Homo sapiens: one gene and its partners. The protein of the gene in region 2 interacts with the protein of the main gene of each other region in a biochemical or structural test. Each region holds a gene or a part of one and is shown on either strand. Other genes may lie near its edges.

The links.
Region 1: of the proteins of IFNAR1 (region 2) and PRKD2, one has a biochemical effect on the other in vitro, tested with the Homo sapiens proteins (one study listed by BioGRID).
Region 3: the proteins of IFNAR1 (region 2) and STAT2 form a complex in vitro, tested with the Homo sapiens proteins (2 studies listed by BioGRID).

Annotation. Positions count from the first base shown.
Region 1 is NC_000019.10:46,673,816-46,680,902, reverse strand, and holds the end of PRKD2 (serine/threonine-protein kinase D2), read left to right. Parts: intron 1-2,239; coding exon 2,240-2,507; intron 2,508-3,446; exon of another isoform or gene 3,447-3,763; intron 3,764-5,784; coding exon 5,785-5,870; intron 5,871-6,167; coding exon 6,168-6,380; 3' UTR 6,381-6,587; downstream 6,588-7,087.
Region 2 is NC_000021.9:33,347,814-33,356,601, reverse strand, and holds part of IFNAR1 (interferon alpha/beta receptor 1 isoform 2 precursor), read right to left. Parts: intron 7,512-8,788; coding exon 7,312-7,511; intron 7,214-7,311; coding exon 7,059-7,213; intron 3,845-7,058; coding exon 3,694-3,844; intron 2,965-3,693; coding exon 2,819-2,964; intron 1,287-2,818; coding exon 1,053-1,286; 3' UTR 1-1,052. UniProt on the Homo sapiens protein: Together with IFNAR2, forms the heterodimeric receptor for type I interferons (including interferons alpha, beta, epsilon, omega and kappa).
Region 3 is NC_000012.12:56,357,027-56,366,123, forward strand, and holds the start of STAT2 (signal transducer and activator of transcription 2), read right to left. Parts: upstream 3,082-9,097; 5' UTR 3,032-3,081; intron 1-3,031. Other genes in the region: APOF (apolipoprotein F preproprotein), read right to left, coding at 4,199-5,163, 5,704-5,719. UniProt on the Homo sapiens protein: Signal transducer and activator of transcription that mediates signaling by type I interferons (IFN-alpha and IFN-beta).

The DNA of each region.
Region 1 (7,087 bases), on a different chromosome or scaffold from region 2:
TTATTCAACATGTAGTCAACATAAAAATTATTAAGGCCAGGGGAGGTGGCTCATGCCTATAATCCCCGCACTTTGGGAGGCCAAGATGGGAAGACGGCTTGAGACCAGGAGTTCAAGTCTGAAGTGAGCTATGATTGTGCCACTGCACTCCAGCTGGGGTGACAGAGCAAGACCCTGTCTCTTAAAAAAGAAACAAAACTCAATGAAACATTCTGCTTGTTTTTCATACTATGTCTTCAAAATCTGGTGTGTATAACAGTTGGGGAAATAGATTGACATGCCCAAGTTGTTCCAAACATATTTAAAAGTTTTCTGGTTGAGCGCAGCGGCTCATGCCTATAATCCCAGCACTTTGGGAGGCTGAGGCGGGCAGATCACTTGAGGTCTGGAGTTGGATACCAGTCTGGCTAACATGGCGAAACCCCGTCTCTACTAAAAATACAAAAATTAGCTGGGCATGGTGGCGGGAACCTGTAATCCCAGGTTCTCAGGAGGCTGAAGCAGGAGAATTGCTTGAACCCAGGAGGGTGGAGGTTGCGGTGAGCCGAGATCACACCACTGCACTCCAGCCTGGACGACAGACCAAGACTCGTCTCAAAAAAATAATAATAAAATAAAAATTTTAAAAAAGATCCATAGGAAAGTATAGATCTTGGAAAAGAGAAAGAGCTATAAGATCTGTAGAAAGGGCAGAGTACCTCAGGAAAGGGTGGCTGTCACATTGAGATTCAGGTCAGGGGTTGAGGCGTGGCTGGTTTCAAAGGTGACAGAGGCTTCAGGCTTCAAGGATTTGGGGCTCTATCCTGCAAGCAACAGTGAGCCAAGGAAGGGTTTTGAACAGGGAAAGGACAGTACATGAACAGAGCTGGGAACCAAGGCTGAGAGGTAGGCAGCAGAGCAAGACCTTGAACCCAGGTCTTGCTGGCTCCAAAGCCTGTCCATGACCTTAGACTGCAGCCATTAACAATGAGGGTATGGGGCCAGGTGTGGTGTCTCATGCCTGTAATCCCAGCACTTTGGGAGGCTGAGGCAGGAGGAACACCTGAGGTCAGGAGTTTGGGACCAGCCTGGCTGATGTGGTGAAATGTCGTCTCTACTAAAAATACAAAAATTAGCCAGGCATGGTGGCGGGTCCCTGTGATCCCAGCTATTCGGGAGGCTGAGGCAGGAGAATTGCTTGAACCTGGGAGGCAGAGGTTGCAGTGAGCCAAGATCACGCTACTGCACTCCAGCCTGGGCGACAGAGCGAGACTCCGTCTCAAAAAAAATAAAACAATGAAGGAAAGGTAGGCATACACCATACTGTCTGCCAGCTACCGCAGTCAGCACCCACTCCTACCTAATCCCCAGGAAAGCCTGAGAGGAGGCTGCTATCAACAACCCCCCAATACAGATGACAAAATCAAGGCCTGGAGAAATTAGGTCCTTGACCTGAGATCATCGAGGGTCATTCTGTGCTAGACACTGCTCCTAACACGTTGCATACATTTCTCTTTCAGTCTAAACAAGCACCCTTTAAGGTAGGGACTGTTAAGATCTCCATTATGTTTCATGTTTTTTTTGTTTGTTTTTTGAGACGGAGTCTCGCTGTGTCACCCAGGCTGGAATGCAGTGGTGCGATCTCGGCTCACTGCAACCTCTGCCTCCCAGGTTCAGGCGATTCTCCTGCCTCAGCCTCCTGAGTAGCTGGGACCGCAGGCGTGTGCTAATTTTTGTATTTTTAGTAGAGATGGGGTTTCATCGTGTTGGCCAGGCTGGTCTCGAACTCCTGACCTCAAATGATCCATCTTCCTTGGCCTCCCAAAGTGCTGAGATTGCAGGCATGAGCCACCACGCCCCAATCATGTATATTTTGAGGCTATTAAAAAAAATCTGCATTATTCAAAAGAGGAAACAGCGACCCATTGGAGGTGGCAGAGGTATAGCAGCAGCTAGCATTTATTGTGCACCAACTGAATGCCAAATATTGTCCTGTGGGCTTTGGATGGTTTAATTCACTAACCATCATGGCAGTCCTCTGAGATAGGTGCTCTTCTGCTCTTCTTCCTATAGATGGGGAAACTGAGGCACAGAGGGGGGAAGTCACCTGCCCAGGGTTGCTCAGCTAGTGAGCCAAGGAGCCTGGATTCAAACCAGCATCCAGCTTTCTCTGGAATACCATGGAGGGTGGTGTGGTGGGGATGCTGGGGTGGGTGCGGCTCCATCACCTGGTGGAGCCTCCATCCCTTGCCCTCTGCAGGTGAAGCTGTGTGACTTTGGCTTTGCTCGCATCATCGGCGAGAAGTCGTTCCGCCGCTCAGTGGTGGGCACGCCGGCCTACCTGGCACCCGAGGTGCTGCTCAACCAGGGCTACAACCGCTCGCTGGACATGTGGTCAGTGGGCGTGATCATGTACGTCAGCCTCAGCGGCACCTTCCCTTTCAACGAGGATGAGGACATCAATGACCAGATCCAGAACGCCGCCTTCATGTACCCGGCCAGCCCCTGGAGCCACATCTCAGCTGGAGGTGCCTGGGGCCCGCCTACCCCATGGGCGGGTGGGTTGTGGGGTGGGGCTGGAGAAGTGGGCGGAGCCATGAGAGGGGGGTGGACCCGGAAACAGCCTGGCACCTTGGGGGTGGAGCCCAGTGCTGGGGCGGGCCTACTGGAGGGATGTGGCTACAGGAGGAGCCGTCCTGTAAAAGATGGGCTGGGACTCAGGCCTAGACTAGGTTACTTGGGCTGGAAACCAAGTGCCCCAGAAGCGCTGAGGACACTTGGAACCTTAGGGGGGCTGAGTGAGACTTGGCTTGTCTAGGGTGGGACCAGGAAAGGGACTGGACTTGAGGGTACCAAAGGGCTGCGGTGACCAGGAGAAGGGGCTGAGCCTCCCAAGGCATTGGCTGGGACCTGGAGCCTTTGGGTTTACGACCCCAAAAGGGTCAGCCTTGCAAAAAGGAGGCACCGGTGGGTAGGGTTGAGAAACAAGGGCATGGCTACTTTGCTGTGTACTGGGGCCGTGACTTGGGTGAAGATGGGCCTGAAGCCTGGGGTCGGTTCAGTGACCAAGGGAGCCAGTCTAGGGACGTGGCCGTGGAGGGTTTCCGAAGAGGTCCAGGAACAGGGCTGACCCTGAGTCCTGGAAGCTGGGAGTGGATGGGAGTGGGGAGGAGAAGGGAGCCAGGACTGAGGCAGACATTGCACTCTGCATTCTGGGGCTTTGGTGTTGTGGCTGGGCCTGATGAAGTGGCACCGGGCCTGGTGACTTGAACCTACTTGGGAATGGGTCTGTAACTTTCCCTGCTTGGAAAAGTTAAGTCCTAAGGCCTGGAGCTTTGAGGCTGGGTGTGGGATGGCATGTTTAGAGGGCCAGAGGCAGGGCTAAGATACTGGGGTGTGTCAGAAGCCAGGAGAACAAGGGACCTGTGTTGGAGCCAGGGAGCTCAGGAAGACAGATGGAGTATGGGAAGGGGGGGGATCATTCATTCATTTATTTATAACCATTTATTCAACAAGTACATTCATGTATTTGTAACCATTGATTCAACATGTTGAGTGCCCACGATGTGCCAGGCATTGACTGTTCCAGCTCTGGGAATACTGTGATGACTTGGACAGAAGGGGTCAGGTGCAGGGTAGCTCATTGAGTGGTCCGCGAAGGGTGGAAAGGGGAAGGGTCCTCTCTGGAGGGTGCGGCTTCATGGAGCAGGTGGAGCAGGGTGACACGGAGGTTGCTCGGTGCAGGACAAGACAAGGTCTTGGTGGTGGTCTAAGAGCATGGGCCCTAAGCAGTGAGAATGTGGATTGACTTGAGTCCTGGAGTAATATTGGGGGTGCTCAACACTGGCTTTTTTTTTTTTTTTGAGGTGGGGTCTCGCTCTTTCACCCACGCTGGAGTGCAGTGGCGTGATCTCGGCTCACTGCAACCTCCACCTCTTGGGTTCAAGGGATTCTCCTGCCTCAGCCTCCCGAGTAACTGGGATTACAGGCACACAGCACCATGCCTGGCTCATGTTTTATATTTTTAGTAGAGACAGGGTTTCGCCATGTTAGCCAGGCTGGTCTTGAACTCCTGACCTCAAGTTATTTGCCCGCTTCAGCCTCCCAAAGTGCTGGGATTGCAGGCATAAGCCATCACACCCCGCCAGCATTGTCTTTTGAGACCCACTCAGAAGTCCCTCAGTAAAAGTGCATCGAGTGTGCACAAGTGAATTTAAGTGTGGTTGCACCTGTGTGAGGATCACAGAATCCTGTGGGTGTTGACGGGAGCAGGGTGCCTGTGTGCACCAGGCCTCTCCTCGGATGGGTTCATACAGTGAAGCCTTGTCCTTCATGGCTTCCCATCAAGGAGAGAGCCTCGGATGAGTGCTGGCTTGTCTTGAAGCTTGACATTCGCTAGTCCTCTTTTTCACAATGAACAGGCCTATCTCTGAGCCTTCTGCAGGCAATGGTGACTAACTACCATCTGATGACATTTTGTTTTGTTTTGTTTTGTTTTGAGACGGAGTTTCGCTTTTGTCACCCGGGCTGGAGTGCAGTGGCACGATCTTGGCTCACTGCAACCTCTGCCTCCTGAGTTCAAGCGATTCTGCCTCAGCCTCCTGAGTAGCTGGGACTACAGGCATGCGCTACCATGCCCAGCTAATTTTTTGTATTTTTAGTAGAGACGGGGTTTCCGTGTTGGCCAGGCTTGTCTCGAACTCCTGACCTCGGGTGATCCACCCGCCTCGGCCTCCCAAAGTGTTGGGATTACAGGCATGAGCCACCGCGCCCAGCCTGATGACATAGATGCTCCCTGATTTGCACTGGGGTTAGATAAACCTGATAAACCCATTGCCCATTGTAAATTGAAAATATCATAAGTTGGTCAGGCGCAGTGGCTGAAGCCCATAATCCCAGCACCTTGGGAGGCCAAGGTAGGCAGATTGCTTGAGCCCAGGAGTTCAAGACCAGCCTGGGCAATGTATCTCTACAAAAAATACAAAAATTAGCCGGCCATAGTGACAGGTGCTTGTAGTCCCAGCTGGCTGCTCAGGAGGCTAAGGCAGGAGAATCAATTAAGCTGGGGAGGTGGAGGCTTCAGTGAGCATTGATCACGCCACTGCACTTCAGCTTGGGTAACAATGAGACCCTGTCTCAAAAAAAAAAAAGGAAGTATTGTAGGTTGAAAATCCATTTAGGCCGGGCGCAGTGGCTCATGCCTGTAATCCCAACAATTTGGGAGGCCAAGGCAGGCGGATTGCTTGAGGTCAGGAGTTAGAGACCAGCCTGGCCAATATGGTGAAACCCCATCTCTACTAAAAATACAAAAAGTTAGCAGGACATGGTGACACACACCTGTATTCCTAGCTACTTGGGAGGCTGAGGCAGGAGAATCACATGAACCCGGGAGGCGGAGGTTGCAGTGAGCCAAGATCGTGCCATTGCACTCCAGCCTGGGCGACAGAGCGAGACTCTGTCTCAATAAATAAATAAGTAAAAATAAAAAGAATAGTACAGGTGTAATTGTATGTACCTGTATATGACAAAAAGAAAAAAAAAGGTGACATAGGGGAATGGGGAAATTGAAGTAGAGAACAGGTGAAGAGAGGGAGCTGGTGTGAACATGCATGGGCAGGAGGAGACAAATTTGTAATGTAATGAGGAAATGGGTGGGTGAGTGATTGGCACAGGTGAGGCTTCTGAGCCACCTGAGCTGGTGCAGAAGGAAGGTGTTGATGGCAGGCAGGTAGGCTAGGGGGTGCCTATTGGAGGAGGAGTGACCCTTGACCTGTAGGGCTTGACCTGTTTCTCTTTCCTGTGCAGCCATTGACCTCATCAACAACCTGCTGCAGGTGAAGATGCGCAAACGCTACAGCGTGGACAAATCTCTCAGCCACCCCTGGTTACAGGTGATGCAGGGGGCAGGGCTGGCCCATTGGCTGGATTGGAGGAAGGGGTGGGAGTAGATCGCTTATTGGCTAGGCAGGTTGTGAAGGATGTAGGTTTCCTTGGGTCTGGAATGTGGCTAGGCCTCCCATTGGCTGGGTGCAGGAAGAGGGGGTGGAGCTAAATGTCTACTGGCTGGGTGGGTTGCAGAGGGTATGGCTTCACCTTCATTGGTACCCAGCTCTCAGTGGCAAACCAGAGGATATCCAGGCACTGCTCCAATGCAGACCCCAAGCTAACCCCAGTTCTCTCGGGCCCAGGAGTACCAGACGTGGCTGGACCTCCGAGAGCTGGAGGGGAAGATGGGAGAGCGATACATCACGCATGAGAGTGACGACGCGCGCTGGGAGCAGTTTGCAGCAGAGCATCCGCTGCCTGGGTCTGGGCTGCCCACGGACAGGGATCTCGGTGGGGCCTGTCCACCACAGGACCACGACATGCAGGGGCTGGCGGAGCGCATCAGTGTTCTCTGAGGTCCTGTGCCCTCGTCCAGCTGCTGCCCTCCACAGCGGTTCTTCACAGGATCCCAGCAATGAACTGTTCTAGGGAAAGTGGCTTCCTGCCCAAACTGGATGGGACACGTGGGGAGTGGGGTGGGGGGAGCTATTTCCAAGGCCCCTCCCTGTTTCCCCAGCAATTAAAACGGACTCATCTCTGGCCCCATGGCCTTGATCTCAGCACACGGCACTCTCGAATCATTACTCTGTTGTACCAACATGGAGTTCATCTGGAAGGAGGACTGCCTGAAAAGAGGAAGGATGGAAGGGGTGGGGAGAGAGGACTGATGGGAGAGGAGTCTTGGAAGGAGGACGAGCTGGGGTAGAAAATATACAGGAAGAGTGCCAGGAGAGAAGATGAGAAGGGAGAGGGAGGAGTAATGGAGGAGGAGTTGGAAACTGGGGAGAGATGGAAGGAATGTGACTGGAGGGTAGAGAACTTGGAGAAAAAGTAATCTCATGGTTTGTGATGACTGATTTTTTATTTGGTGGTGGTGTTACTACTAATCACAACTATTAATTCAGGCTGGGTGTGGTGGCTCATGCCTATAATCCCAGCAATTTGGGAGGCCGAGGCAGGCAGATCCCTTAGATCTCAGGAGTTTGAGAGCAGCCTGGCCAACGTGGTGAAACTCCCTTTCTACAAAAAGTTCAAAAATTAGCCAAGTGTGGTGGCTTGCACC
Region 2 (8,788 bases):
ATTCCAGCAGAAGCTACTGTTCTAATAAGTTTTGAATCAGAGGTCTTAATGCATAGTAAAAGATTGCCTGGCTTTAATCCTAAACCATGTAAGGGTAGATACTGTGATGTGGAAGCCAATGTTCTCGGGATGAATGAACAGAAGTCCCTCAACATTTTTAGGGATCATCTTTCTGGCATTTGCAGCTGTTTTCTAGGGTAAGCTACTTTCCAGAAAACCAAGTGATAACGTGTTCAGACTTTCCTAAATAAATTTCCTAAGGGCCTACCCTCAGTGTTAAAAGAAAAGACCAAATGTTTGAAATATCTCCCGAGGAAGAATGAAACAGAATGTTAGGAATGGCGAACAGACAGGTGTGGCACATGCAGTAGCCAGCAGCATCAGTGATGGACAGGAACACAGACGTCATCCTTAGCCACGGTGCGCAGCTAGCACGGCTGCACTTAGGCTCACAGGAGGAAGACGGGTGGCCACTGTTTTGGTCTGACTCATCTCATCCAATGCAAGTCCGGTGACAGGCTTTTTCATGATTTTACACATGGAAAAGAATGTAGGAAACGTTTGTCTCAACTCTTTTAATTTCTTTTTTTAAAGAGTCTCACGCTGTCACCAGGCTGGAGTGCAGTGGCGTGATCTCGGCTCACTGCAACCTCCACCTCCTGTTTTCAAGCGATTCTCCTGCCTCAGCCTCCTGAGTAGCTAAGACAACAGGCGCGCGCCACCACACCCGGCTAATTTTTGTATTTTTAGTAGAGATGGGGTTTCACCACGTTGGCCAGGCTGGTCTCGATCTCTTGACCTCATGATCTGCCTGCCTCAGCCTCCCAAAGTGCTGGGATTACAGGTGTGAGCCACCGTGCCCGGGCCTGTAATTTCATTTTTAAATAGTTAAGAGCTTGCCCGTATTTTTAGGACCTATGATCTGAAGATGTTTTTTCTTTCCCTAAACAGGGAAACGTCCTCTCTGTAGTTACTGAGAGGAAGGTGAGGACCTCAGGCTCCCAGTGTAACTCCTGCTGAAAAACCTTATACTTGACACAGTTCATTTCTGGTCATACAAAGTCCTGCTGTAGTTCTTCACTTGTTTTACTTTCGCTTTCATCTTCATTAGAATAATTTCCTGAATCTTGGCTAGTTTGGGAACTGTATTTTTTATGATCTTCATCAGTTTGATTAGTTTCTTCTACTGTAGCAATTGTGCTTATATTTTCAATTATGAAACATTTTTCGATTTGTTCCTCAGAAGTTGAAAGCAGAAGATTCTTCAATGGCTGTTCAGAGAAATACTAATTTAAAAAAAGGGAAAGAGTAGAAATCAATTATTTAAAATAATAAAAATTCCTTTTCTAGTTGTAATAGCTTTAGTTTCTTACATCCATTACTGAGAAAACCTATCTTCTGGCATGCATATTAAAAAGTCGCCTAAGAACATACTAATTGCCTTATAATGTTTAAAAGCATCATTAGTGAGGTCACTCATATCTTAGTACCTTCTGTGGTGAGTCTTTGAAGAGTACCTAAGAAAGGTACACTGTGCCATCGGGGTAGGCGGGGAAGAACACGGGAAAGGACAGGAGCGGGCGGACTCTGGGATCATGACTTTTTTTTTTTGAAATAATAAAAATGTTTGTATCCAACACATATATATCCAGAAGAAGCACAATTGAGAAATTATTGGCTATTGTAACTAGTTTTTAAGTCTATTTTAAATAATAGCTATGAATATTACAGTACACAGGAATGACATTTAAAAACTCAGGGGTATAATAGTAAAATTGTTAATATTTACGGAGCATTTTTAGAGTGGTAAGGTTCTTATGGTTTAACTCCTTTGCTCCTAACACCTCTATGGGGTGGTTTACAGCCAAGGGTACTTGCTTACCTGCCCTTAGTGACTTGCTCAAATTCACAAAACCCACCCTAGATGAGCACATGGTTTCCCAGGAACAGATTCTATGTTTAGGCCTTCACCATTCAGTGCTTTCATTTAATATGCTAGCTTCATAGAAGTGCCAAACAAAAAACTGTGATGTGTGTCATAAAAAAAGTCTCATGTTTTTAGTTATTTCATTTTGTATGATTTCATCCATAGAATATACTTTCTACGCTGATAGAATATTTTAGTCTTCTGGATATATACAGATGCTCCTAACTTACAATGGAATTACGTTCTGACAAACGCATCACAAATTGAAACAGCGTAAGTTTGGGACTGTCTGTACTGAGAAGAATCACATTACAGACTTTATTTACTTATTTAGAGACAGAGTCTTGCTCTGTCACCCAGGCTGGAGTGCAGTGGCATGACCTCGGCTCACTGCAACCTCCACCTCCCAGGTTCAAGCGATCCCCCTGCCTCAGCCTCCCGAGTAGCTGGGATTACAGGCATGTGCCACCACGCCCGGCTAATTTTATATTTTTAGTAGAGACAGGGTTTCTCCATGTTGACCAGGCTGGTCTCGAACTCCTGACCTCAAGTGACCCACCCGCCTCAGCCTCCCAAAGTGCTGGGATTACAGGCGTGAGCCACCACGCTTGGCCAAGAATCACAGGCTTTAAACGGTAAAACAAATGCCACAGTGAATCTAGGAATTGCCAGAAAAATATGAAATTAAGGACAATCATTACTATCTCATGCTATGTTATTACATGAAATTACTGTTTTTAAAGTTAATTGACTAAAGCTTTGAAGAAGATACCCAAATCAGTCTCTATTATTTTCTGGATATCAAGAAAACCTACATATATCCTGTTGAAATCAAACACATTTTCTGTTCATTACCTAGCTGTTGACAAAAAAATAAAAAAAGTAACATACCTCATCTATACTGGAAGAAGGTTTAAGTGATGGAAAGAAGACATAATTGATGCATCTCAAGAAGACTTTCGCAGCATAAATGACAAACGGGAGAGCAAATAATGCAATACAAATTCCAACTATAAGCCAAATTTTAGAGGTATTTCCTAAAAAGATATACGTGATATTTAGCATATATTTTGACATACAAATGCCTTAACAGTGCTGACAGCTGTGTGAAAGACTAGCCATATGAAAGGAAATATAAAATCTATTAAATAATACTCTTAAAAATATTTCTGGCAGCACTGAGTCCACAGCAACCATAGGCAATGACATTTACATTTAAAGATTGGCGTGGGAACTGAAGTAAGAGATCCTCAGGGAGAAATACAATATTGACATACAGGCCAAACATGCAAGTATCCTTCAGCACTTTTACACCATACAACTAGCAAAATTTAATAGATATTCTGTGACTAAGCCTCTACCGGTCAACACTAGAAACTGTAAAATAGAAAATGAGACTAAACCAATTCCCACATTAAAAAACTCACAATTGAACTAAGTGATTTCTACATGATAATTATGTTAAGGATTATATTCTAAAAATTTAAAATAGTTTTATTAAATGTTAAAGAGAAATACATTAAGGAAATTAATTATAGGGATACTGGATGAAATATAAAGCATCCAACAACACCGACTTGAGAGTTAAGCGTTACAAATATTTTCTAAAAAGTCTACTTTTGATTCATGTAGTTCATGAAGAAAACATTCTTTCTATATATTTTTTGCAGTAAAGAGAAAATGTTTTACAATTTTCAATGTACAGTATAGAATTACTTTTATTATGTCTAGCTACATTTTTAAAAAAGACAATAAAAGATTCTGACCTGGTTTTGTTTTCTCACATACAGCGTCACTAAAAACACTGCTTTTATTCAGCTTTTCATCCATGGTGTGTGCTCTGGCTTTCACACAATATACAGTCAGTGGTTTCAAATTAGGAACTGTAACATCAGTTTTTTTCTCGATAATTTTTCTCTAGAAAATATAATTAAATCACTGATAAAATTTAGTCACCTCAAGAAATCAGGGAATATGTGCTTTCTCAATTTTTTATGTTCAGTCTAACATTGGCCTCTCCCACGTAGTTGGTATGTATTTTTTGTTTTGTTTTGTTTTGTTTTGTTTTTTTTGTGAGACAGTCTCGCTCTGTCACCCAGGCTAGAGTGCAGTGGTGCAATCTGGGCTCACTGCAATCTCTGCCTCCTGGGTTCAAGCGATTCTCCTGCCTCACCCTCCTGAGTAGTTGGGATTACAGATGCAGATGCCACCACGCCTAATTTTTTTTTCTTTTTGGTAGAGATGGGGTTTCACCATGTTGTTCAGGCTGGTCTTGAACTCCTGGCCTCAAGTGATCCACCCACCTTGGCCTCCCAAAGTGCTGGGATTACAGAGTATATGTGTGAGAAATATAAATTTGTTTTAGATACACCACTATAACCAAATCAGAAAGTTAAAAATGCTGCTGCCAAAAAAGCATATGATCTATTCCTAAGAGAATTCTAATTGATTTACAAGTACATGCCAAGTCTGGGGTAATTGCCATTGTATTACCTCTGATTAGTGACAGAATGGTTAAGAGTAGGGGTTTTGGCCTCAAACTGCCTTATTAAGAGTATCACTTACAGCTGTGTGGTCTTGCAAGCATTATTTAATTTCTCTCTACCTGATTCCCTGATCTATAAAATCGGGACAGTTATTGCTGCTATCTGTATCAGTCAGCTATCGCCAGAATAATGTCTAACAAGCCGGTGGGTCACACCTGTAATCCCAGCACTTTGGGAGGCCAAGCAGGAGGATCACTGGAGCCCAGGAGTTCAAGACGAGCCTGGGCAACATAGCTAGACTCTGTCTGTACAAGAAATTTCAAAAAAATTGGCCAGGCATGGTGGTGTGAGCCTGTAGTCTCTGTTACTTGGGAGGCTGAGGAAATCCCTATTTCCAAAACAACCACCACCACCACCACCAAAAAAGCCTGGGCAACGTGGTGAAACTCCATCTTTAGCAAAAATACAAAAAATTAGCTAGGCATGGTGGCATGTGCCTGTAGTCCCAGCTACTTGGGAAGCTGAGGTGGGAGGATCACTTAAGCCCAGGAAGTCGAGGCTGCAGTGAGCTGACATCACATGAGTGCACTCCAGCCTGGGAAAAAGAATGAGAACCTGTCTCAAAAAAAAAAAAAATAAAATAAAATAAAATAAAAAAATATAGATAACAAAACTGCCTTAACGTTCAGTGGCTCACAAAACGATTATGTAGTTTCTCACTCACAAGTCTACAGACTGGCTGGGCAGCTCCCACGGAGGCTGTGCATGGGGTTTAGGTCAGCTCCAGCAGCCTCTAATCCTCCTTGGACCAGAGACTATGTGGAATACATTTTATTCCTGGCAAATAGGAGCAGTGCAAGAGCCAAGCCAAACCCTGCAAGCACACTTAAGGCCTCTGTTCTCAGCACATCTACTTGGGCTCCAGCATCTACGGTCTGGTGGTGCAGGGAAGAAGTCACCGTCCCAAGTATTTGCCAAACAGCAATGTAACCAATCACATAATCCGGCAGGGTTGTTTTGAAGAATGACTGAGACAATTCATGTACAATACTTAGCATAGTACCTTACATATAAGTATTCAATAAGAGTTTCTATAGTAACAATTATTGATATATTATCCAGTATAGGTTAAGATGGCAACTACAATTTATTGAATCTCTACTACTTGTCCAGCAATGTGCTAGGTATTTTCATATTTGTTACTTCCTTTTAAACCTTATAAACATCCTTTTGAAAAATTTAGTTGTTATGATTACCACCACTTCAGAGAAGAGGAAGCAAAGTCTCCAAGAGGTAAAGCACCCTGCGTACGTAAGGTTACACAGTTTAGCAGTGAGATAGAAATTTAGGTTTGTCTGATCTACAGACATCTGAAAACCGACCATAATTCTCAATGGGCTACATTAAGCTATGGTTACAGGGTTGTCAGACAATTAAAAAGGGAAGCAGCCAAATCAATGGAATTTGCTTAGATTTCCAATAGAAAATGAGGTGAAGTTAAAGAATTTACCAGCCTGACTGGACAGGAGTTTTAAAGGTCGATTCTTGACTACAAGTCCACGAGGGGGAAGTGATCTGGGAAACACGTATATTATCTGACGGTATATATTATCTTTGTCAGTGGTATCTGAATTTTAGGGTTTAGACCAGTGTTTGTCAACCCTTTTTTCATTACCTCCCCAACTAAACAACTTTTTGGGCAATTTTTTCCTAATCCTTCCCCCATCATAAAATTAAATACTAAGGAATAAGATTTTGTTGGGCAAAGCTGAACTTTGGAAGAATGCTTTCCAATGGTTTTGGAGGAAAACAAACAACTGTACTACATAAATTCTTTTGTCCCATAAGAACCAATTTTTGTCCCCTTGGAGGAGCCACCAGGGGACATTTGACAATATCTGAAGATGTTTTTGGTTGTCACAACTAGGAAGGAACACTACTGGCATCTAGTAGGCAGAAACCAGAATGTTGCCAAGCATCCTGCACTGCACTGGACAGCCCCCTCCCAAGGAACTATCCAGCCCAAACGTCAATAGTGCTGAGAATCCCAGGTTTAGATGAATACATGGGAATCATGTTAAAAATGCAAATTCCTGAGTTCCATCCCCAGAGATAATGATTCAGTAACAATAGGCTCAGGAATCTGTATTTTAAAAGCAAACTGGGGCCCAGATGCAGCTCACCCATAACTCTACAGTGCAAAACATGAAAAATGCTCATAATCTTCATTTTGTTAATATCTGAGTTAATCACATTTTTTTTTTTTAAAGACAAGCTGTCAGTCACTCTGTCACCCAGGCTGGAGTGCAGTGGCACGATCATGGCTCACTGCAGCCTTGACCTCCCAGGTTCAAGTGACCCTCCCACCCCAAGTAGCTGGGAATATAGGTGCACGCCACCACACCAGGCTAATTTTTTAAAATTTTTATTGAGACAGGGTCTCCCTATGTTGCCCAGGCTGGTCTCAAACCCTTAGGCTCAAGTGATCCTCTCGCCTTGGCCTCCTGAAGTGCTGGGATTACAGGCCACTGCATCCAGCCCACATAAAGTTTAAAAATTTCCCCCAAATTTTACATTCAAGCTTTATTTACCCAAATCATAATTATAACTCTAAGTTACAAAATTATACTATACAGTCTTTTTACCTCAGCATTTGAAGTGTTTTCCCAAAAAATAATTTCATAAATCAGTGGATAATCCTGGATCACAGGCGTGTTTCCAGACTGTTTTGGAGCACCGATATAGATATGGAATGAATCACTAAGGGATCTAATGTTAAAGACTGGAGGAAGTAGGAAAGCTAGAAAAAATTTGTAAAGAAATAATGTTCAATTAGAAAAACAATTTTAAAAACTTGCACCAGAGAATTACAATCTCCAGTAAAAACTACTGCCTTACCTTGTATTTCAGTATCAAACTTTATCTCTTCAGACCAAAAAGATGTGTTATTTCCATCAGATGCTTGTACGCGGAGAAGGTAAATTCCTTTTTGGAAAACGTTTTGAGGAAAGACACACTGGGTAGTTTTGACATTTTCACAGTCAGGTATTTGTTTCCATTTATACAAATGGTTTCCAGGATTCCTTTTTAAAAAGGCGCTTTTAAGACAAATATTTTTTAAATTCATTAGATATTTATTAAGTATTTACAATTGCCAGACACTATGTTAGGGGCTAAGGTTACAGAAATAAATAGTATCCACACTCAGGAAACTCACAAACAATGGAAGAGATATGCATCTAACATAAAAGAAAACCAAAGACTGTTCCAGACTGTGGTCATGTTGTGCTCTGCTGGAGGTGGCTCATATCAATATGCAAGAACATCTGTTAGTTAGAATTTCCAGGAATGCTGCAAGCTGGTTTATTTTTTTTGGCTTTTTTTTTGAGACCGAGTCTCGCTCTGTCACCCAGGCTGGAGTGGAGTGGTAGGATCTTGGCTCACTGCAACCTCTGCCTCCTGGGTTCAAGCAATTCTCCTGCCTCTGTCCCCCTGAGTAGCTGGGATTACAGGTGCACGCCACCAGGCCTGCCTAATTTTTGTATTTTTAGTAGAGATGGGGTTTCGTCATGTTGGCCAGGCTGGTCTTGAACTCCTGACCTCAGGTGATCCACCTACCTCGGCCTCCTAAAATACAAACTGGTTTTTAAAGAAAAACCATTACTAAAAATTAAGTTATATAAATTTGCAAATAAAAAATTGTTTTAAAGACAGAGGTAATAAATAAATTCATCTTGTCCTAATTATTTTACTACATTTTATTTTCTAAGCTCTTGGGGCTATCTTTATCTATTGTAGCTATATGATAGTGGTGTGCTACTGTGCATATGTTCCCAACTCCATATTCAGGGACATCAGGCTGGTGGCTTGAAAGTGGCCATGGTGGGAATATTTATATCATAAAAATCAGCAAACACTACAAAATAGGACTTTTTCTTTCTGGAAAGCCAGCTGCTAAACATGCGCCAGCATACCAATGGACACTGATTAAGTGCTAAAATAGAGACACACTGCGGGGTTATAAGAGCAAGTATAAGTACGAGACTAAAGAGGTTAAGTAACTTGCCCAGAAACCAACAGCTAAAAGCATCTCAGTTCAAGCCCAGAACTCTAATAGCCTCCTGACTGGTTTCCTTATCTCTCTTTAGTGTCTCCTTAGTCCACTCTCCCACATACCATGTCGCCGCATGCACCTTCCTCAAATCCAGAGCTCAGGTTAACTATCACCCCAACACAAAATCCCCAAAAGCCTACAGGACAGCCTGAGGTTGACCCTAATCTTGTCCCATTCTACTTATTCAGCTTTCTTCCCATTGCCACCTGGTGTCCAAATGTTCTGCTACTCTAGAAGGACATCCTCCCCACTGGAGAAGGC
Region 3 (9,097 bases), on a different chromosome or scaffold from region 2:
TTTTTTTTTTTTTTTTTTTTTTTTTTTTAAGATGGACTCTCACTCTTTTGCCTGGGCCGGAGTGAAGTGGCATGATCTTGGCTCATTGCAACCACCATCCCCCTGGTTCAAGTGATTCTTCTGCCTCAGCCTCCTGAGTAGCTGGGATTACAGGCACCCACCACCACGCCCAGCTAATTTTTGTATATTTTTTAGTAGAGATGGGGTTTTGCCATGTTGGCCAGGCTGGTCTCAAACTCCTGACCTCAGGTGATCCACCTACTTCGGACTCCCAAAGTACTAGGATTACAGGCATGAGCCACTGTGGTCCCAACCTGTATTTTTTTTTTCTTCAGATGGAGTCTCGATCTGTTGCCCAGGCTGGAGTGCAGTGGTGTGATTTTGGCTCACTGCAAGCTCCGCCTCCCGGGCTCATGCCATTCTCCTGCCTCAGCCTCCCGAGTAGCTGGGACTATAGGCTCCCGCCACCATGCCCGGCTGATTTTTTTTTTTGTATTTTTAGTAGAGATGGGGTTTCACCGTGTTAGCCAGGATGGTCTCGATCTCCTGAACTCGTGATCTGCCTACCTCGGCCTTCCAAAGTGCTGGGATTACAGGCGTGAGCCGCTGTGCCCAGCCGGCCCCAACCTGTATTTTAATAGCTTCAATAAGTGGGCCTTTGTGCTTTAATGGGAATTTTCTTTCTTTTTTTTTTTTTTTTTTTGAGACAGGGTCTCACTTGGTCACCCAGGCTGGAGTGCAGTGGCATGATCTTGGCTCACTGCAGCTTTGACCTCTCAGGTTCAAGCCATTCTCTGCCTCAGCCCCTCAAGGAGCTGGGACTACAGGAGTGTGCCATCATGCCAGCTAATTTTTTGTAGAGATGGGATTTTGCCATGTTGCCCAGGCAGATCTCAAACTCCTGAGCTCAAGTAATCCGCCTGCCTCAGCCTTCCAAAATGCCGGGATTAACAGGCATGAGCCACCATAACCAGCCTAATGGTAATTTTCAAATACACACTAGAGTAGAGTGAATAGTACAAGGATCACCATCCAGCTTTAACAAACATTACTATTTCCACAATCTTATTTCATCTATCTCCCTAATTCATTTATTTTGCATTTATGTGTGTGTTTGTTATTTATATTTGATTGTGCTAAAGCATTTAAAGATCAGTGTTGATGTTAAGTATTTATTACAGCATGATCCCTGCTGGCTCTGAAGCTTTTTTTTTTCTTTTTTTTTTTTTCTTTTTTTGAGATGGAGTCTTGCTCTGTCACCCAGGCTGGAGTGCAGTGACACGATCTCGGCTCACTGCAAACTCTGCCTCCCGAGTTGAAGGGATTCTCCTGCCTCAGCCTCCCGACTAGCTGGGATTACAGGCGCCCACTACCATGCCCAGCTAATTTTTGTATTTTTAGTAGAGATGGGGTTTCACCATATTGTCCAGGCTGGTCTGGAACTTCTGACCTCAGGTGATCTGCCCACCTTGGCCTCCCAAAGTGCTGGGATTACAGGGGTGAACCACCATGCCCGGCCACCTGAAGCTTTTTTAGGAGCCAAATCTTTTTGGTGGTCAGGTAAGTACACCATATAAACTGCCCTCCATATAGGAAGGAGGAGCTCCATTCTAGAAGACATCTAAATGCTGTGCAATGGGTGGCTCAATCCCAAGAATATGACACGTTTATGACCTGTGAATCTTGAATATGATTATAGGTTATCAACTTTGTGAGATCCTGAAACTTCACTTAAAATTGTTGCCTGTAATCCCAGCTACTCAAGAGGCTGAGGCAGGAGAATGGCTTGTACCCAGGAGGCAGGGGTTGCAGTAAGCAGAGATCACATCACTACACTCCAGCCTGGGTGACAAAGCAAGACTCTGTCTCAAAAGAACAACAAATTGGTTTTTGCCTGTCACCAAGCAGGCTGTCCCATGCATCTTTCTCCCCACTGTTCCCTGCTCACTGCCAGCTGGTGTCTATTTAGGAAACTGAAACTTATGCTTGTTGCAGCCTGAGCCTAACAGAACAGAATTCATGCATATTTGTGGTCTAAAAAGGTCACATGATTTTATTACAAAATAAAGAGAAATGCTTGGGGTGGGAGAGTCTTCTACTAACATGAATAACATCAGCTGCCTTTCTACCTCCAGCAGGAACAAGGGAAGGGAGGGATTGGGCAGGGGCTATTTTCATTTTAACTCTTTTAGTAGTGCTTGATTTTTAAAACTATGTATCTGTATTGCTTTTATGATACCAAAAAAAAGTTAAAAAAATGATCAGGTGGCCAGGCATGATGGCTCATGCCTGTAATCCCAGCACTTTGTGAGGCCCACAAGACGAGAGGATGGCTTGAGCCCAGGAGTTTGAGACCAAGCTTGAGCAACATAGTGAGATTCCATCTCCAAAAAAAAATTAATGATGAGGTCCCAATTCTTGAGGATTTAAGTGTCTGATATTAAAGGAGCAAGTCAGCAAAGATTCAAATATGAAAACAAAACAAAAAACCTGGTCTCCCCAAATGGATTGCAAACACTGAGGTTAAGGGCTGAAACAATTTTTTCTCATTATCTCTCATTCTTAGGCACATATTTTGCACTCAAGAAGCTTTTCTGAAATGAACTGAATTTTGTGTGTGACCTTAGGCAATCGTTTCATCTTTCAGTAGCTTATACTTTTTAACAAAACAAGGATAATAGATTTATCTATCTTTGTTTTTAGATTTATCTATCTTTGAACATCGTTTTTTGGTGAAGATAAAAAATAATGCAGAGCAGAGGGAAAAACGTCAGATACCGAACCAACATAACAATGCCAGATTCCGGGTCTCGGAAGCTGCAGGGCAGTTTTGGGAGAGGGGCATTAGGGTTAGGGAGATAGGCTGGACAGAAGAAGATCGAGGACCGAGCAGGCGACAGCTCCTATTTCAATCTGGGGACCGAAGCTACCCTCTCCAGGGGGTAACCCCTGGGGCCAGTCGCCCTTCCCTCGGAGGAACTCTCACTCTCACCCCCACCCCTACCCCAGCACACCCTCTCAGGGCCCGTACCTGATTAGGGTTGCAGTCCCCGCGCCCTCCAATGGCTCTGGTCGCGACTTCCCGTCCCTAGTATGAGCTCGGGTACTAGAACCTCGCGCCCCGCCTACAACTTCGGCTAACCCCCCTCGGACCCGCCCCCTTGTAGTTGGCAGCGGAAGTCCGGAGCGGCCCCCATTCCCAGCCGCCACCCCGACACTGGCTGCCATTCAGTCAAGCCCTTCCCAGACTGCGAGCTCACTGGCGCCGCCGCAACTCCGCCCCTCCGCAGGGCGGGACAAGCTGAGCCGAAACCACACCTGCAGCTTCAGCGATTGGTGGAGAAGTTCAAGTAGGCACTTTCTACGAGGGGAGGAGTCCAATTAGTGGACTAGCCCAAGACTGAAACAGCTGATTTTCGAGAACCCGCGCGTGAGCCCCGGAACCGAAACTAGCTTGAGGAGCCTGGAGACGCCAAGGGCTCCATGGGAAGGGGTGGGACCGGAATTTCGACGCCTTGGGATAGGAAGAGGAGGGCTGAGGTAATGAAAACAATTTTTTTTTATTTTTATTTTTTGAGACATGGTCTCGCTCTGTCACCCAGGCTGGAATGCAGCGGCGCGATCTCGGCTCGCTGCAGCCTCGACCTCCCAGGCTCAGGTGATTCTCCCGCCTCAGCCTCCCAGGTAGTTGGGACTACAAGCGTGCATAACTCCGCCAGGATAATTTTTTGTATTTATTGTAGAGACGGGGTTTCGCCATGTTGCCCAGGCTGATCTTGAACTCCTGACCTCAGGTGATCATCCCGCCTCAGCCTCTCACAGTGCTGGGATTACAGGCGTGAGCCACCGCACCTGGCTAATAGCTATTTATTGAAAGTACTGTGATAAGCATTTTAGATTCATTGTATCATTTTAAATTTACAGGGCAACTCATTGAGGTTAAAATCATTCTATCTCCTTTAGAAACTTCAAAACTGATCTTAGTTCAAGAAAGAAGTTACTATTCAGTGATCACCGAGGCTCTAACAAGTGGAGCCTAGATTCGAAACCAAACCCTGTGACTTCAACACCCAAACATTTACGTTCTTACGTTTTACTGTACAGCCTTCCTCCTGGATAAATCAGATTAAAATTTTGAAGACATGTATATAGCTTGTCAGGGTAGTACAGTTATTAATTCTGTGGTTACCACATTCTTTTATATCTCAAGACTCCCAGCCCCAGGATCTAAGTCATAGCTCTTGATTATGGCCCACCCCCAGTAGGGAGCTGAACTTACTACTTCTGATATGAAAGAAGCCAGAGTAGTTGTTTCTTCCAAGTCACTCACATCTGAGATGGCCCTCAAACCCTCCTTGGTGGTCTCCGGCTGAGAGATGTTTGCGTCTTTCTGATCTTGGTAATACTGGATCAACTGCTGAACCCCAGACCTTAATGCAGGTTTAAGTGCAGCACTGATCGCTAGACCCATAGGCCCCCCTGACATCCCAGCCATGGTCATCAGAAGGTCATATCCCAGATCTATGGCCCCATCTCGGCCTCGTTCCCTGGCCTTGCCCAGGCAGTTTTGAGTAGCATAATACAAAGCTGTGCCCAGGTTGTAGAAGGTTCCCACTCCTGGCAGCAGCTGGACTACATTGTGCACAGCTTGCTCCTTCTCATTCTCACAGTCCTCTGTCGGGAGGGAGCGCCCGACCCTTCCTGTGCTTTGCTGCTCCCTGGCTAACAGCTGCAGAGCAGAGGCCAGGGCTTCCACTGACACGTTCCTCTCTGTGCTTCTGCCTTTCTGGAGCCCTCGAAGATGCTGGATGAGGACCTGTGTAGCATTCACACCACCCTGGCGGTAGAGCTGTAGCTGTAGAGCCCAAACATCAGCCTGACAACCAGCTTCCTCCAGGGCATTCCTTAGAGCCAGGCTTACCAAGAACTTGGGTAGAGGGGCCATGTGGCTGAAACCAGGCAGTGACTTTGGGTGCAGAAATTGGCAGGACAAGGGGTCTGAGGAGGGTGTCTGGGATTCCAAGGACAAGGGAAAGTGCATCAAGACATTTGTCTGCTTTCCATATGAAGTGGCATCCACAGGGTGCAGCAGGAGGTAGCAAAGTAGCAGCTCAACTGGTATCATGATGAGTCTGAGGCCACGCATGTCTGGAGCAGAGTACCCTAGAAAGGGGAGAAATCCGAAACATACAAACCATTTCCCTAAGGGCGATGGTGAGCCCAAGACTCAGTTAGGGGGACACCTCATACATCACCTGCTTCCAAGCTTTTGTACTTTCTTTTTAGAGACAGGGTCTTGCTCTGTTGCCCAGACTAGAGTGCAGTGATGGGATCACAAATCACTGCTGCCTTGAATTCCTGGGCTCGAGGGATCCTCCTGCCTCAGCCTCCCAAGCAGCTGGGACTACAGGTGCGTGACACCATGCCCAGCTAATTTTTAAATTTTTTGTAGAGACGTGGTTTTGCCATCTGGCCCAGCCTAGTTCTGAACTTTGGGCTCAAGTGATCCTTCCACCTCCGCCTCCCAAAGTGATAGGCTTCCAGATGTGAGCCACCGCGCCTGGCCCCAAGCTTCTGTTCTTTTTAGGTAAAGGCCTAGGAAATAGGAAATGCACCCCAGTTGCTCCCACTTGGTCTCCCCCATTTACAGGTCACCAGGGACTTCTGTTTTATTTCCACCCATATATAGGGACCCCAAATTACCACACAGTCCAGTCATTGAGAAGTGAGACTGCCTTGGTAGGTTTGATCGCTTCCTGATCCTGTTCTGCCTAGTTCTGTGTCCCATGAGGAAAGGAGATATTTGCTTTCCCCTATGATCAGTGAAGGATGTAATCTCTGCAAATATTTGCCCATTTATACTGGCTGCTCAAACCTTGTGCCCCTTGTCACACACTCAACCTCTATGCCTACAGTCCTGTTCTTTGGCATTTCCTGTATGTCCCTGCCACATTCCCACTCTAAGCTCATGATAGGAGCCAGGGAAATTCAGAATTAGGAAAGATGAGATGTTTGTGATACTCTCATTTCTCTTCATTTTAAAAATTAAATTAGCGGCTGAGCATGGTGGCTCACGCCTGTAATCCCAGCACTTTGGGAGGCCAAGGCGGGCGGATCACAAGGTCAGGAGTTCGAGACCAGCCTGGCCAATATGGTGAAACCCTGTCTCTACTAAAAAAAAAAAAATATATATATATATATATATATATATACACCCAGGCGTGGTGGTGGGCGTCTGTAGTCCCAGCTACTCAGGAGGCTGAGGCAGGAGAATTGCTTGAACCCGGGAGGTGGAGGTTGCAGTAAGCCAAGATCGCACTACTGCACTCCAGCCTGGGTGACAGAGTGAGACTCCGTCTTAAAAAAAAAAAAGGAGGGGAGCTGACACCTACTAAGTGGAGAGGGGCAAGGCTAACACTGGTCACATATGTGTTTAAGGGAAGAGGTGAAATAAAGAGCATTCATCTGTCCTAAGTGGTCTCCAACATTTCTAACTACTTACTGTGTGCCATCCTTGAATACAGTCCTGGGAAAGGAGACTCATTACTTATGTGATATTGAATAGCTGAAATGAGCCGGGATCAATTCCTGGATCATTTTCCTCACAAAGCACTTCAGAATAGCTGTGGAACATTTGATAGATTATATTGTCACTGTCCATGGACAATTTAAATGATCTTGAGAGCTTCTTCAACTTTTTGCCTAATTCTTCAATATGCTCCCAAGACTCATACCTGCAGTTCTTGGTGATGTGGACACCCAAAACTTTGAACTGTGACACCAAGCATCATGGGAGATGGTTTCTCAGCAAACTCAATCACCATCTGAGCTACCTGGTAGGCCAGCTACCCCAGTGGGTATATTTGCCACCATCCATACATTTCCCAGGATGGGCAGCTGGGTGCTGGGTTTATTCACACTTCCCTAAGGGACTACTAGATTCGTCACAATGATGTTGGTATTGCCTTCCTCCCCATTGAACTTTTTGACTCTCACGGATGAGGGTTTCAGTGGTATCCTTTCCTCGCATCTGAAACTGCAGAACATGGGCCTCAGTTGGGCAGCCCACCTCCTCCAAGGGCACCCTCAGAGCTAAGTTGGACAGGTACTCAGGCAGAGGGGCTAGGGAGGGGGCTGTGTGTAAGAGATCTTGGCAGATCCTGGGATCTGGGAGAGGAATCTGGCTCTCCATGTTCTCCAAATAATGGAGAGCATGTTTGATGGATGCCCAGTCTCTGTTAAAGATGGCTGGAGGGTCAGAGTCTCATTCTGAGCATTTCTTGGAAAGGCAGACACCAGGGACAGCAGGACACAGCAAAGCAGCAGCACAGCTTGGACCATGGGGGGACAGCAGAGCAGCCCTGCTGGAAGGAAGCAGTGCTCAGGTTGGGAAGTGGAGAAAGGCTCAGGACAAAGAGACACCAAGACTGGCCAGAGCTAGAAAGTGTCTTAGCTCTTGGAAACTTCGGTTGCCCTGAGCACACCTCATCTTCACTCTTAAAGGATGTGGGTGATCCTCCTATTTTGAGGAGAAACAAGTCAGAGGAAAAAAACAGTCCAAACATCTCATTTGCTTTGGTATCTTCATGACCTGAATTACTATTATTGTTGTTGTTGCTGTTTTTAATCTGCCCTTTCCCAGAATCACAAGGAAACCAGAAAGTTGATGGCTTCCAAAACAGTGAAGGACAAAACATTTGCAAATATTTATGCATCTCTTCCCAGCCCAGACTTTGTCCTTCTCACCTTTGACCCATACTGACAAACTGACCTTTCCCCTTTTAGGCCCTGCAGTCCTGTCCCATATCTTTTTTTTTTTTTCTTTTTCTTTTTCTTTTCCTTTTTTTTTCTGGAGACACAGTCTCACTCTGTTGCCCAGGGTAGAGTGCAGTGGCACGATCACAGCTCACTGCAACCTCCACATCCCGGGTTCAAGCGATTCTTGTGTCTCAGTCTCCCTAGTAGTTGGGATTACAGGCACGCACCACCATGCCTGGCAAATTTTTGTTTTGTTTTGTTTTCTGGAGACAGTCTCACTCTGTTGCTCAGGCTGGAATGCAATGGCGTGATCTTGGCTCACTGCAACCTCCACTTCCCAGGTTCAAGAGATTCTCTTGCCTCAGCCTCCCGAGTAGCTGGGACTACAGGTGTGCGCCACCACGCCTAGCTAATGTTTTTGTATTTTTAGTAGAGATGGAGTTTCACCATGTCAGTCAGGCTGGTCTCAAACTCCTGACCTCGAATGATCTGCCTGCCTCGGCCTCCCAAAGTGTTGGGATTACAGGCGTGAGCCACGGCACCCAGTGACATATCTTTTCTATCCTAAGGTTTTACCCTAAACCTATATTTGAGCTGAGGAAAAGGTCCTCCGTATCTTCTTGAGGGGAGAAAGGGTAAGGCAGAATAGCTGGTGATCTCTGGGACCCCTAAACCATTTTTCTTTTCTTTTTTTTTCTGAGACGGAGTTTCGCTCTTGTTGACCAGGCTGGAGTGCAATGGCGCGATCTCAGCTCACTGCAACCTCCGCCTCCCAGGTTCAAGTGATTCTCCTGCCTCAGCCTCCCAAGTAGCTGGGATTACAGGCGTGTGCCACCATTCCCGGCTAATTTTGTATTTTTGGTAGAGACGGGGTTTCTTCATGTTGGCCAGGCTGATCTTGAACCCCTGACCTAAGGTGATCTGCCCACCTTGGCCTCCCAAAGTGCTGGGATTACAGGCTTGAGCCAGCCACAGCGCCTGGTCACCATTTTTCTTATTAAAAGAATATATTGGTTGGGAAGCCAAGGCAGGCAGATGGCTTGAGCCCAGAAGTTTGAGACCAGCCTAGGCAACATGGCGAAAGCCCCGTCTCTACAAAAATTATAAAAATTAGCCAGGAGTGGTGGCATGCACCTGTAGTCCCAGCTACTGGGGAGGCTGAGGTGGGAGGATCACCTGAACCTGGGGAGGTCAAGGCTGCAGTGAGCCATGATTACACCACTGCACCATCCAGACTGGGTGACAGAGCGAGACTTTGTCTGAAAAAGAGAATATACTGGATGGGAGTCCAGGGAAACTGGACAGATTGACAAATAAGACAAAATCAGAGCAACTTTTT